Linked DNA regions of Homo sapiens. The protein of the gene in region 3 interacts with the protein of the main gene of each other region in a biochemical or structural test. Each region holds a gene or a part of one and is shown on either strand. Other genes may lie near its edges.

Region 1 (3,500 bases), on a different chromosome or scaffold from region 3:
GCAATACCCTGTTAAAAAAAATTTTGTGAATTAGACTAAATGTTTTAAGTATAACTTTCAAATAGTCAAAAAATACACACTTAATAAACAAAAAGTTTACCATTATACCTAATAAATATTACTTAAATTTACACTAAAAGAAGGTAACAGAGTTATTCTAAGATATTACTAGGAAAGACATTCTGGTTTAGCAGAAATCAAACAAAGAATGAAGTATTAAAAATAAGGTTCAAGTTGGGTTAAAAATGGAGGAATGAACAAAGACATTACCCAAGTTCCTTCCAAAAGCCACACAAAAAGGTATCTGTTAATAAAAAGCAAACAAACTCTATGAAGACAAAGTTAGAGGAAAAGGAGATTCTACCAAAAAACAAACAAACAAACAAAAAACCCATAAAACCTTAGAGGCTAGAAAGCAGACAGCCAAATGGTAAGTAACTCAGCAGACACAAGAAAGCTGAATCCTAATCCAAGTGTAGAGAAAGTAGAAGTAGCCCCCTTTCCCCCCAACAACAGAACCCCCCTGTCAGCTCCAGACTTGGCAGATTTACGTGGCACTGGAAGTAGGGGTGAAGGTAGGAATAAAAAAAGGAAGATCTCTTGAAAGTCTACTGAAGACGCATTTAGAAGCTTCAAACTAATAACAATGTCATCAACAGGAGAATGGGGTAATTAATAAATTGTGGATTAATAAAATGAGTGAACTACAACTATATTAACATAAATGATCTGACAAACATAATGCTGAATAAAGAAGATGAACTCAACACATAATGTATGACTCTTCTGTACAAAGTTCAAAAACAGGCAAAAGGAATAATCTTCAGGATACTGGTTATCTTTGCAGAGAGACAAGGCAGTAATTAGAAGGGAGTAGGATTCACTAAAAAATTATCAAAAAGCTTAACCTCACGAACCTTGCCACGAGCTGAAAGTGTTCCCCAAATTCATGTGTTGGAAACATAATCTCTAATCAACCAAGTGCAGACATGGAAACTCAGAGGTGATATGATGAAGGCTCTGCCCTCATGTATGGATTAATATCATTATTTTGGGAGTGGTTTCATTATCAAGAGTGACATCATTATAAAGGTGAGTTTGACCCCCTCTTGCTTTTGTGCTCACTTGCGGTGTTCTCTTGCCCTTCTCCCATGACATGACACAGCATGAAGGTCCTCACCAGATGCTGGCACCCTGGCTCTTGGATTTACTCACTTCCAGAACCTCAAGTCAAATAAACTTTTATTGTTCATGAATTATTAAGTCTTAGATATTCTGTTATCACAATACAAAATGGACAAAGACAAACCCTTTCTCAGGAAGCAGCTGGAGAAGATGACTCCACCAGATAAGGGAATAAACCAAAGAAGATGATGCCACTGAATTCATGAAGTACAAGATCCAACACAAAGGAGAATAAAGAAAATCCTCAGGTATGGAGACCAAGAAGACAGCTGTGCAGCAAGGCTAGCAAACAGCGAGTGCAGATTAAAGCATGTTGAAAGATGCTGAGAGACGTATCTCTTAGACACTAAAATTGGTAAGAGTGCTAAAGGTCTCTGATGTATGAAACAGAGAATTTGGGGATGAATTAGTTAAGTACATAGAAAAACTAAGCCAAAAAAATTCAAACAAACCAAATAAAAATTAAAAGAAAGCAAGTAAAAGACAACAAATTATAGGGAACATAAAAAGCTGTGTAAGGAAGGAAAAGTAATTACAGTAGACCACACAGATCAGGTTGAAACAGCATTTACAGTCACAGTAAGTCACAGTAAGGACTGAATATTGATCAAATCTAAATTATGATATAACTCTGCTGGCAGATGATGGGATAGGTAGTGAGCATGAAGGTATATGCGGTGAATGTGGTCTATATGCTTGTGAAAGCACTAAGTCCTCACCTTCATTAATGAAAGTCAGTAGTTAAAGCCTTATATTAAAAAAATCAAAAAGCACCAGAATTATGTGATTCAGAGATATAAAGGTACATAACTAAGTAAAAGAAGCAGCTAAAACAGTTTCCTTTGGGAGCCAAAAATTTGGTATGTGGCAGGGAACTTGCTATTAAGTCTTATAGAACTACTTGACCTTTTAAATGCTACGCATACATTGTTTTGATAAACATGAAGTTCAGATGAAACCTTTCTCAAAATACTCAATGAAGAAACAATCTTATTTTAGAATCTTAGTCTCCAGCTCCCAATGTGAATATTTTACTTTTAATGTCCCACTTTTTTTTTTTTTTTTTTTGAGATAGAGTCTCGCTCTGTTGCCCAGGCTGGAGTGCAGTGGTGCGATCTCAGCTCACTGCAAGCTCTGCCTTCCGGGTTCACGCCATTCTCCTGCCTCAGCCTCCGGAGTAGCTAAGATTACAGTCACACATCACCACACCCACTATTTTGTATTTTTAGTAGAGACAGGATTTTAATATACCATGTTGGCGAGACTGGTCTTGAATTCCTGACCTCAAGAGATCCACCCGCCTCGGCCTCCCAAAGTGCTGGGATTACAGGTGTGAGCCACCATGCCTGGCCAATGTCCCATATATTTAACACACTTAAACTCAATGGGATTTCTTGATTCTCATCATACCCATATTATACAAATGCAAATCTCACCATTCCCTTGCTCAAAATCCTTAACATTTCTAAAAGTAACTCTATGGTGTTAATTGGTATTCAAATAAAAACTAGTTCTATGATGAAACAAGTCTGGAAAACTTTCAATCACAAAACGTTAAACTGCTTTTTAAAAATGAGCTTCTAGGAGTCATATGATATCGCATAGTGTGTCTCTAAACTTACATCATCAGAAGTAGGCTTGGCAAATGTTCATCTACAGGATAAGAGAAAAAAAATTCCTTATCATGGCATTCAAGGCCTTTTTAATGTGGCCCCCTGTGAATTCTTCTAGCTTCGTATCTCATTACAGCACCGCAACCTCTTCTAGTTAGATTGAAAAACTTGTACATAATTCGCTGATGAATGAGGGCCTCTTGGTTCCTCTCCTTCCCTCAGCTAAACTGGCACCTCTTCCAGAAAACCCTTCCCAGTCTCTACAGGCAGAGTCAAGGACTTCTGCCTGAGACACTTGTCACTGTCCTGTAATTATTTCCATGTGCTGTGAATTTTTAGGAGACAGCAACTCTTCACTTCTAATGTTCCGGGACTGGAATACTGAACACAGTCTCAATATTTGGAGTCCCGCATTAATCCAAATAAAATTTAAATAAAAGTATTTTAATTACCTTAGGTTTTACTACCATAGATGTATTTGATTATTGGATTACACCATGAGATTCAGTCTTTGATGACAGCAGTATCTCTATACATGGTTAACTAATTTTTGGCAAGAATAATTTCATGTGACAAGGATTCTCTCCTTCGACCAAAACTTGCTATGTAGATAATTGTTACACTATATTATTTAGGGAATCATGACAAGAAAAAGTCTGCACATGTTCACTACAGATGCAACCATCCATATTTTTTGTCCCG
Region 2 (3,500 bases), on a different chromosome or scaffold from region 3:
ATGCTTTCCACAAATAATCTATAAACTAGATGTTGAGAAGCGGACTATATAAACATATTCATGATTGCATGTTTAAAATGCAAGGCATTCTAAAGAGCAAAACCAATCAAAATCAAGGCCCATTGTAGTTTGCTTTTTAAATATCCATTCTAGAGATTTTATATCAATTATATTAAATATGGATTTCATTTGCATTTTGAATAAAATCATGTTTAGGAATTTTTTTTGTATAACAGCTACACATTAATATTCTAAAATTATTTTTTGAGGAAAATGTTTTAACTTTGTCCCAAGTCAAGTTAACACTTCATTGCCTTGACCTCTACCTGAATGCTAAAGGAATTTTTGTACTATTAATAATTTATTAGAACTTTTCAAGTCCTACTTCTGTATTTCTCACCTTTTTTGTTATTAATATGTATTATTGACTTCCTGGCTTCTACTGACTTTATACCCCAATAGGTACAGATAACATAATATGCAGAGATACTGAGTCAATGCACGGCAAATGATAACCAAAGATCAGTGAGCATATATGACAAAGCAAGTAGAGTAAAATGTTAATGGTAGAATCTAGGTGGGTATATGAGTGTTCACTATAAAATTATTTCAACTTTTCTGTGTTTGCAAAACTTCTTATAATGAAATGGAGGGAAGTCGCCTAGTTAATATCTCTGCTTTCAAGAAATACAACAATCTAAGGAAGTTATGCGCTGATTTTTTTCCTAAAGTTATTAAAGAAGACAAGAAAGTGGAAACTGAATGAGGTCCCACAGGAGGGATAATACCTTTGTCCAATGAGACTCCTGAACAGCCAAACAGGAAAATGCAGAAACCATTGGCTTGTGCCCCAGTCTCCCTTGGGTCAGCTGGTGGTTGCTAATGTTGCCCACAATCAGATGGGGGTCATCACAGATGTCCTATGAATACAATAATTGGTTATATGAGAGTCTGGGAAGAGTTTCTCAAGAGTCACTGTGAGCTGAACTAGGCAGGACAGCCTTCATAGAGGAGATAAGGTTAGGGTTGAAAAATAAGTAGGATTTCCATAGATGGGATGAAGGGAAGGCTGAGGGGATTATAAGGAAAACCAAAAAACAGTTGATCATCTAGCCCCATGTTTGGAAGTGGCAGGAGAAATGAAAGGAGAGGGTGTCATGAGATTGGGTGCCATGCGGTGGTGAGGGCTCTTAGACATAGCTATCATTGGGGTTTGGGAGAGTTTTCACCACAGCAGTGAACTTTCCAAAAAAATAATAACTAGGAATTAGTACATTACATTCTGATCCTATTTTGCCAGGATGAGATTTTCTGAAGCACCTGTGCTTGGAAGGGAGATTGTATTAAAGAGACAAGGTCTAATGAAGGTTAACATTAATTCATCTCCTTCTCTAGGAAAACCAGTTAGGAGACCTTATAGGAAGCCCTTTTCTAACATAAAGCAAAAGCAACAGTGGTCTCCATAGCAACCAGATTTTTCTACATTTGTGGATGAATATAGATGACAGCAGCATTAATAGCAAGTGGTAATAAACCACTCACAGGAACACTTCAACCGACACTCTTCCCAGTGAAGGTCCTGAGGGGATCTGGGCAGAGTGGGGGCAGTATTTGTTTGGAATGTATGTGTGTATCTTCCCCCCAACATATTAACTGTGCCTTTCCCACTGGGAGTAGGAAAATGATACCTAAATGATACAATTATAACACAAAGCGATAGGGCACAGTAGAGTCATTTTCAAAGCATAATTCATGTCTAAAGGAAGAATCCCCATAATTCTCCTGATCACAGTCAGAATAGGATTCATAGTGTTGTTAACACTGGAGTTGACTAGAATTAGGCAGTTGGACAAGAGAGGGGTACGGTGGCATAACAGGTAGAGAGAAAGGCATGGGCAAAGGCATTGTGGCATACATGACACTACATAGTTGAAGACATAATTGGGTGACTCAGAGTATCAGCATTTGAAGAGTTCAAAGGCAGGAAATACCAATGCATTCTTGACTAGATGGAGAAAGCTTCACGAGGAGGCCATTGGCCGGTACCTTGACATTCTGCTTACGCAGCAGAAATAAATCCTTGTCTCAAATGGAATCTAGACATATATCCTTTTAAAAAGTATTAGAGACAGCTATATTTTTCTGGTCCTCAAACCTCTTTTTTTAATGGCCATAATTCTCCTTGACGAAGGGTCTGGTCTACAGAATGAAACATTCCATATATTCTTTAAAAGCCAAAATAACTCTGGAAAGAAATAGGCAGGCATTCTGGGCAAAGACAAGTCCAAGCTGGAGATTAACTGGGCATCCCTCTGCCAAAAGGAGATGGCTAGATAGGTTGTCAGCTTTGGATTCTCAGGTCTTTTTTTTTAGATGCATGCCTGGTAGTTCACAACTACTTTTTGTTTTAGGAGAATTTTCTATCTTAAAAAATATTTTTTATGGGCTGCAAACTGCCTTTGTTTTCACTTGTTGAACATAGAGCAGGTATGTTGGGTAAGTCAAACCCTGATGTTCTTTTTCTTCTCATTTTTTTGGCCTTTTCTAAAATGAAACTAAGCACAGTTTTTCCTCCCCAGGTCAGGTGTTTTCATTTTATTTTGAGCAAGATGTCAAAGTATAAAATAATTTCTGGCCAGGTGTGGTGGCTCTCGCCTGTAATCCCAGCACTTTGGGAGGCCGAGGCAGGTGGATCACCTGAGGTCAGAAGTTCAAGACCAGCCTGGTCAACATGGTGAAACCCCATCTCTTCTAAATATACAAAAATTAGCCAGGCGTGGTGGCAGGCGCCTGTAATCTCAGCTACTCAGGAGGCTGAGGCAGGAGAATCGCTTGAACCCGGGAGGCAGAGGTTGCAGTGAGCCGAGATCACACCATTGCGCTCCAGCCTGGGCAACAAGAGAGAAACTTCGTTCCAAAAAAAAAATAATGATTTATTTGACCTAGATAATACATATCATAGTTTCCTAACATGGAAAAACAATAAAGTGAACACTGATATATGAAAAAGTGTGCTTTTAGATTAATAAGGCAAATTATTTGCTAATTTTATGTAGAGTTATTAGTGGTTGGAGATACATTATGGTGTCTTGAATTTCCATAAAATTTTCATTTCACAGTAGGTATCTAGGCTTAGCCAACACTTTTGGCATGTCAACTTCTATTGAAGACATAAAGGGTCACATAAGTGAGCAAAAAGACATATAAACAATTCAAATTGAGGAATGGGGTAATTATTCTCTTCTTGACCCAAGATGGATATGATTATTATATATTATATGTGTCTATGTATATACATGTATGTACATATAATATATATATTAAAAGCTGTGTGAAATTCATGAGAGAATGTAAATTTGGGACCCCCCCCCCCACAACATTCCATTTCCTCTTATAAACTGGCCCATTCTCCAGTTATACTTTACCCCTTTTCATACGTGATGGCTATTTAACAATAGATTTAAAACATGACAAGTTAACAGTCATAGAATGTCAAAACT
Region 3 (3,057 bases):
GCGGACGCGGCGCGGGCGGGCGGGAAGGAGGCGCCCCGTGCGGCGGCGGGCTCCGAGCTCTGCCGGCGCGAAGGCCCGGGGGCTGCGCCGGCGTTTGCCGGCCCGGGCGGCGGCGGCAGCGGCGCGCTGGAGGCCGAGGGCAGGGCGGGTGCGCGCGCGGGTCCCCGGCCGGGCCCGCGACCCCCGGGGGGCGCCCCGGCGCGCAAGGCCGCCGTCGCGCCGGGGCCCTGGAAGGTGCCGGGTTCTGACAAGCTGCCCAGCGTCCTCAAACCCGGCGCCTCGGCCGCCAGCAGATGAGCCGCGCGGCCACGGCCAACCCGCCCGCCCCGGCGCAGGCAGTTCTTCTTAGGTTCCGTCTCACGGCGTTTTAATTTATTTTCACTGTCACACGCATAGATCCACGAGGCACCAAGGCCTGGGAGCATCGACGTGAAGTCCCACGTGTCCGGTGTGCTTGGGCGGCATCGCATCAACGCGCAGACCTAAACTGATCCTAAAGCCCCCGGTTCCCTTGTGGGGGCTTTGGCAGCTATGGAAGAACCAAAATAACGTGAAGAACATCACAGAGAGACAGTGCAGTGTAGCTTTAGTTTAAGAAAAAAAAATATTCCTCCCCACTGCATGAAGGACTTGGATGTCATCCAAACTTTATATCAAGAAACAGGACAAAGTTAAGAGCAATCACAAACTGGAATATCGCCTTAAAAATCAAACTGCACGGAGCAAGCTGAAACTGAGACAAGATTATATCTTTTAATTGATCTAAAGCGTTGTAAATAAATTGTTCTCGACATATCTAGACAGGGGTTAAAGGGTTTCTTTGACACATTCGGAACCGTTCACCCATGACATGTTTCCATGGCTCACCCTTGGCATCCATCCTCGGTGTTAGCAGCAGCGTTCCCTGCCTCCTGCAGGATGACTTAGAAATCTAGTGAGTTTCTTGGTGTGATGCCATTTTTATTGCCCTTTCTGTGATCAAATCATATTTCTGTACATTTTCAGTGGTAGAAAAAAAAGGTTTTAAAAATTGTATCCTAGGGAACAGTTTGCCATAAGTCAGAATTTTGCAGTTTAGCTCATAGATCTTAATTGGTTTTTCTCTAAAATATGAATTTTATAATTGAAGGACCACAATTTGTTTAATCAAGATAGGCAACGCTGCAGTTCCTTTATGAAGAGGCTTTTCTGTCGTCCCAGGCTAGCAGAGATGGATAGCTTCTTTGTCAGCAATGTGATTTCACTTATTTTATTGTCTTATTTTAAACCCTGTCTCCATGACTTCATTTGCACTTTGACAGAGCAGAGGCAGAGTATTTGTCTTATATTTCTCAGATTATAATATTAAAAAATTACAATCAATTTATTTTCATTAAAGAACGTGAGTCTTTTTAGCATTCCTTTCTGCTTATCCTTCTTTCCTTACCCTTTGTCCTTTTGTTTCCATTAGTTTTCTTTCGTCTTGTATTCCTTGCCACTTTATTTTGTTAGCAACTTCTAGATGTTTATCTTCATGGATCTATGATTGACCTCCTAGTAAAATTCTAAGTCTTGCCTTTCTTCCCTGCTGTTTTAGCATTTCTTTGTAAAATGTTAGCTTCAATTAATTAGCCATTGGTACTTACTGTAGCTACACATATTAAAAGGCAAAGTGTTTCTGAAGGCAATTTCTTTTTAATATGCCCGAATGAATGAGGCTTCATCCTTTCCATATTCTTACTCTTTACAGGAGTTCAAATGCAAATAAGCTCCACCTCCCTGCACTTGTAGTCTAAAAAGTAAAAGGGGCGATCAGGTCCATCTCAAAGGTCACACGTAATAGCCTCCCTGGGCTGATCATTCCCTCTCCTTGTAATTGCAGTATCCTGAGTAGCAGTTTAATTTTCATCAAACATCGGAGTAGTTTAGTTGTTTGACAGGAGGAGAATAAGGCTGAAAGCCTCAAGTGAAGGATCTTGCAGCTTGTAAAAGCAATTTCCAAAAATGAAACCCATTCATCGTAAACAAAAGCACAAACACTTGTAGCAGTTTATAATGCTTTTGGTTTAATCTCAATTAGTCTTTCTCCCCTGGACTAGAAATCCAGTATAGTTTGCCATTAATTTATTGAATCTGGTTTTGGACAATGCTTCTGTAGTGTAGCTGCACGTCCTGGTACTGTATCCTCTGACTTTATTTTCCATGTATTACAAAAGGAAAAAAAAATTGAGATTACACTGGCATAAACTCTAGTTTGCACAGTTCACAGCTACTACTTGTGCAGTAATTGCTTTATGCGGCTGTAATCCATAACCTGTGAAGACAGCACATCATCTAAATCCCATTCCAAATAATATTTGTGTAGTGTTAGCTGTGAATTTACCCTGTACAGCTGTATCTCTATAAATATAATTCCATGTATTAATAGTCACAGAAAGACTGTAAGTGAGCAACTATTTTTATGAAACGTACCACTATGGATAAATTAACTTTTACAGAAATCTTGTTTACTGTATGATATTCTAAAACACTGTCAAATAAAATATATATCCAAAAATCTTTTCTTTTTCCAACTATATAGGCTGTGTGTTAATTTGAAATAGATTATTACTGGGGGTTAACTTAGTTTTTCAAAACTGCAGTTTTCATCGACTTTTTTTATTTTTGGAAGTATAAGTTTTAATGCCCCAAATAGGACTTTTTTGAAACTTGAATCTAAAAGCAGTGGCATTACATGGGAAAGATCATTGGCTTTTTTGGCCTAAGTAAACAGTTTTCTCAGTCTTGTTGATATTTGCTTGTCAGGTTACTACATCATTCATGAATTGGCTGTATATTTCTGTTGCTTGCTACATTGATCGATACTTTACCTTTTTTCAAAAAGGATTTAAAGTATCCATCTGTAATAAATTCCATCACATTTTTTCCTTTTAATTCTGAAATTTTCTCATGCAAAATCCCAAGGAGTTCATGCAGAAGCCAACATAGCAAGCAGCAGTGAACTGGTCCAAAATGAATGGTTGAATATAGCTTTTGTCATGTATTGCGATGCCTGTGGTAGGAAGGGAGAGTTCTGCT
Region 4 (4,011 bases), on a different chromosome or scaffold from region 3:
CTTTTTAAACTTTATACCTATTACTTTTTAAATTTTTGTTGAAGTATCACTCCTGACAGAATAATGCTGGCCCAGAAGTTTGCAATGACAGCAAATGCCTATGGAACAGCCAAAATTGAACTTAACAATGAACTCCAGGTAGACATACCTTGAGAGCCACTCCTTCCAAACCTCCCTTGCTGCTCAAATGTGGCTAAAAGGTATTTGGGGTTTTTTGAGGCAGGGTCTCGCTCTGTCACCCACGCTGGAGTGCAGCGGTACAATCATAGCTCCCTATAACCTGAAACTCCTGGGCTTAAGTGATCCTCTACCCAACTGACTCCCGCACACTCCCCAACCAATGCCCAGATAACTTTTTTTTTTTGAGACGGAGTTTCGCTCTTGTTGCCCAGGCTGGAGTGCAATGGTGCGATCTCGGCTCACCGCAACCTCCACTTCCCAGGTTCAAGCGATTCTCCTGCCTCAGCCTCCCTAGTAGCTGGGATTACAGGCATGTGCCACCACGCCCGGCTAATTTTTGTATTTTATTTTATTTATTTTTTATTTTTTTATTTTTTATTTTTTTGAGACAGAGTCTTGCTCTGTCGCCCAGGCTGGAGTGCAGTGGTGCGATCTCGGTTCACTGCAAGCTCTGCCTCCTGGGTTCACGCCATTCTCCTGCCTCAGCCTCCCAAGTAGCTGGGACTACAGGCACCTGCCACCACGCCCGGCTAATTTTTTGTATTTTTAGTTGAGATGGGGTTTCACCGTGTTAGCCAGGATGGTCTCGATCTCCTCACCTCATGATCCGCCTGCCTCGGCCTCCCAAAGCGCTGGGATTACAGGTGTGAGCCACCGCGCCCGGATGTTATTTATATATATTTTTGTATTTTAGTAGAGACGGGTTTCTTCATGTTGGTCAGGCTGGTCTCGAACTCTCAACCTCAGGTGATCCGCCCGCCTTGGCGGTTGCCCAGGCTGGTCTTGAACTTCTGGACTCAAGTGATACTCCCTCCTTGACCTCCCAAAGTACTGGGATTACAGACGTGAGCCCCTGCTCCCAACCACTACAAGGGTTTTGACACTGACTCCTAGTCACCAGTCTCCAACTGGAGACTCCTAGTCTCCAACATGGCAAGAGACCAACAACCCAAGATAGGTCCGTCCCAGCACTGAGGGACCTAACTACAGGATGACTGATCAGTAAAGTTTTTGGAGAAAGATCTTGACCAAAAGGGGGAAATATGAAAGTTGTTAGAATCAAAACAGAGTCGTTTGTGTTAAAAACTCTGACAAATTTAAAGCATGATTCTCCAATGGGAAAAAACAAGAACAACAACTCTGACAAATAAAACCGAGGAAGGTTGTGAAAAGAGGGTTCTTATGCACAAATGACTGATAACAAGATCACAAAAAATGCAAAAACCACAACCCTGCACAAAGGCCACTGCAAACTTACACAGAAAAATCTTTCTGTGAGGACATCTGCCCTGCAACTGCCTGTCCAACCTCAGACTAGCACCACTCTTGCTATTCATCCTTGTAGCCAAGGATAACTATCTCAAAATAATCATGTAATCCTCATTTTTCCTTTTCAAAACCTTTGTCTTCCTTTACCTCCCCAAATACGTACACAGGTTACTATGGCACACATATTGTCACTACAATGTCTATTCCCAAGTAAACATCATTTTTTTAGAGTCTCTCACTCTGCTATTTAGGTTGACAGTACCTACCACACTCTAGGCACTGTTCTAGAGGCGGGAATACAGCAATAAATAAGCAAAAATCTCTGCACTCATGGTACTTGTCTCTAGTAGGGATAAGAGTTGATCAATAAACTTGTAAAATAAGCACAGAGGGATGAGAGGGTGTCGGTCAGGTACAAGATTACATAAAGTGGTCAGGAGAGGTCTCACACTCAGATTACAACTCCCCAATGTTACCAATGTGAAATCAAGGCACAGAAAAATGAGGTGACTGCCCAAAGTCACACAGCTATTCCCAGGCTGAACCAAGTGTCTGTTTGGCTCTAAGTCCAGTGCTCTGTCTTCTGACTCTTTGTAAATGAGCACAGGCTACCTGAGATCAGAGCTGGCTACTGAACTACCAGGACACCTGCCCCAGGGGAGAGATGCTCAGTTACAGACAGTGAGGGGCTGCAGAGATCATCCGGAGAACCCCCTACCCCCAAGCAGACGAGATAAGTGAAACCTAGAGAAGGAATAGTCCAAGTTCACCCAGGACCCTCCACATTCCACCTCCTGCTCCAAACTCAAGGGAACCAGAACCAGGCTAGGGCAAAACTTTAGGGGCCAAGGAGAATACCAGACAGCTGGCAATGACTGAAGCAGGTAGTGGGAAAGAAAAGCCAGAACAGCAGCCTGCGGGACAGGTCCTGCTTTCTCTACTGTTAAACTCACTTTTTCAGCCTCTCAATCCCGATCCTGCCGTATGCGTCACCCGGAGCTCCTCCTGGCTCAGCATGAGGCTCTGAACTCCTGCAGAGGTACCAGGTAGTGGCGGGCCTTGAGCCAGCTACCGGGGTCGGGGGCCCAGGTGGTTGACCCCGAGCCTTCGGAGCTCCCGGAGGAGGGAGCGAGCCTTCTCAAGGAACAGAGGCGTCCAGGTCCACGAAACTCCCTCCCCACCACCTGCAGCCGGTTCGAGGCCCTCGGTTCTCTCATTATCCTTCCCGGGAACCTGCAGCCCGCGGCCCCTACAGCCACCTACCTGGCCAGTCGGTGCAGGAAGGGCAGGTGGCCGAGTCCTGTGCGAGCAGCTAGGCTCGAAGGTCCAACAGGCTAACAGCAAAGCAACTGAAAGCGGGAGCAAACGGCTAGCAACCGAGCGCAGACCGCCGAGCTCCGTCCCGCCCACCGCGCTGCTCCCGGCCAATGAGCGCGAGCCGCCACTGCGGGGCTCCGCTAGCCTCACTTCCGGCCCCGCTCCACCGCCCCTGCCTGCCCCTCCAGGCTCTGGCGTGCCTCCAGCGCGCTGTGGGCACCATCCTCGTCCTGTCCCTCCTGCGGGCCCTGGGTACGTGGCCCTGGATTTAGCTTGTGTTGGAGGAAGTTAAATCTGTGGGTGGGGTCTGTGCCCAATTTAAGGCGTGAATCAGCAAACTGGGGTCCCAGCTCCTGTCGGCCGGGCGACCTTCTGCGCGCCCTCCCTGAAACTGTGTCGTCGTCTGTGGCCGAGTTTTTAAACTTTAGATCGCAACGTGAGTTTAGTGGGCGGTGACTAGCACTTTTGTTCTTCTTTAAGGACCTCAGAGACTCAGTGCAGGATTCGGGCATCCCCTCCTTGCCCCTCCGGTCCACCAACTAATAAGCCAAGTGCGGCGGGGGCTTCCTCGTCCGTTCGTTAGGCCGAGTGCAGCCCCACTTTTGCGCAGGATCAGGACAGTCAGACCCGAGAAGGCAGCGTGGCGTGGCCATCTCCGGGCCCGGGGCCCCTGCCGGGCGGGAAGGGAGCTGGAGGCCCGGTCTGGGCTGAGCTCCCCAGAACAGGCGCAGGGCAGGCACTGTCGAGCGCAGACCTCATGCCGGGGACCAAGCTGGACATGCATTCCCAGGATCTACCCACGAGGGTGCATAAACACCAGTTCTGATGACGGCTGTACGGGAAGGGACAGAGGTGACCTACTTTAGCCAGACAAGGGCTGAGGCTGGGACAGTTTCGTTCTGATAGGAAAGCTGAGAATTTGACCCTCCTTGCCTGGAAAGTTTACCTCTATCCACCTCCACGTGAGGCGAGGGAGCAGGTCAAGTGCCTCTGGGAGCTGTTGAATCGCAGCAGCCCCAACCCCTAGGCCTTTCTCTGCCCTGCCAGCCCCAGGATGGCCTGACTGGTGTTCTCTGAGTACAGCTGAGGCACCCAGCTGACTCCTTGAATGCTGTTACAAGAACAAATCCTGTCCCGTCCCTCCTTCCCTGAGGAGGCCATCAGTCTCCTTGCTGAAACAATCCCTTATCCAACTGGCTGAGAAACCAGCTCCTGGTAGACAAGGTAGTACAGTGTTTTTGGAGA

What was found.
Region 1: the proteins of MAGI2 (region 3) and ATP2B1 interact in a test that uses a peptide from one of them, tested with the Homo sapiens proteins (one large-scale study listed by IntAct).
Region 2: the proteins of MAGI2 (region 3) and CAPN6 interact in a test that uses a peptide from one of them, tested with the Homo sapiens proteins (one large-scale study listed by IntAct).
Region 4: the proteins of MAGI2 (region 3) and CCDC134 interact in a test that uses a peptide from one of them, tested with the Homo sapiens proteins (one large-scale study listed by IntAct).

The regions. Positions count from the first base shown.
Region 1 is NC_000012.12:89,604,339-89,607,838, forward strand, and holds part of ATP2B1 (plasma membrane calcium-transporting ATPase 1), read right to left. Parts: intron 9-3,500; coding exon 1-8. UniProt on the Homo sapiens protein: Catalyzes the hydrolysis of ATP coupled with the transport of calcium from the cytoplasm to the extracellular space thereby maintaining intracellular calcium homeostasis.
Region 2 is NC_000023.11:111,253,484-111,256,983, forward strand, and holds part of CAPN6 (calpain-6), read right to left. Parts: intron 921-3,500; coding exon 789-920; intron 1-788. UniProt on the Homo sapiens protein: Microtubule-stabilizing protein that may be involved in the regulation of microtubule dynamics and cytoskeletal organization. May act as a regulator of RAC1 activity through interaction with ARHGEF2 to control lamellipodial formation and cell mobility.
Region 3 is NC_000007.14:78,016,555-78,019,611, reverse strand, and holds the end of MAGI2 (membrane-associated guanylate kinase, WW and PDZ domain-containing protein 2), read left to right. Parts: coding exon 1-297; 3' UTR 298-2,557; downstream 2,558-3,057. UniProt on the Homo sapiens protein: Seems to act as a scaffold molecule at synaptic junctions by assembling neurotransmitter receptors and cell adhesion proteins. Plays a role in nerve growth factor (NGF)-induced recruitment of RAPGEF2 to late endosomes and neurite outgrowth.
Region 4 is NC_000022.11:41,799,468-41,803,478, reverse strand, and holds the start of CCDC134 (coiled-coil domain-containing protein 134 isoform 1 precursor), read right to left. Parts: upstream 2,801-4,011; 5' UTR 2,713-2,800; intron 2,481-2,712; exon of another isoform or gene 2,403-2,480; intron 1-2,402. UniProt on the Homo sapiens protein: Molecular adapter required to prevent protein hyperglycosylation of HSP90B1: during translation, associates with nascent HSP90B1 and the STT3A catalytic component of the OST-A complex and tethers them to a specialized translocon that forms a microenvironment for HSP90B1 folding.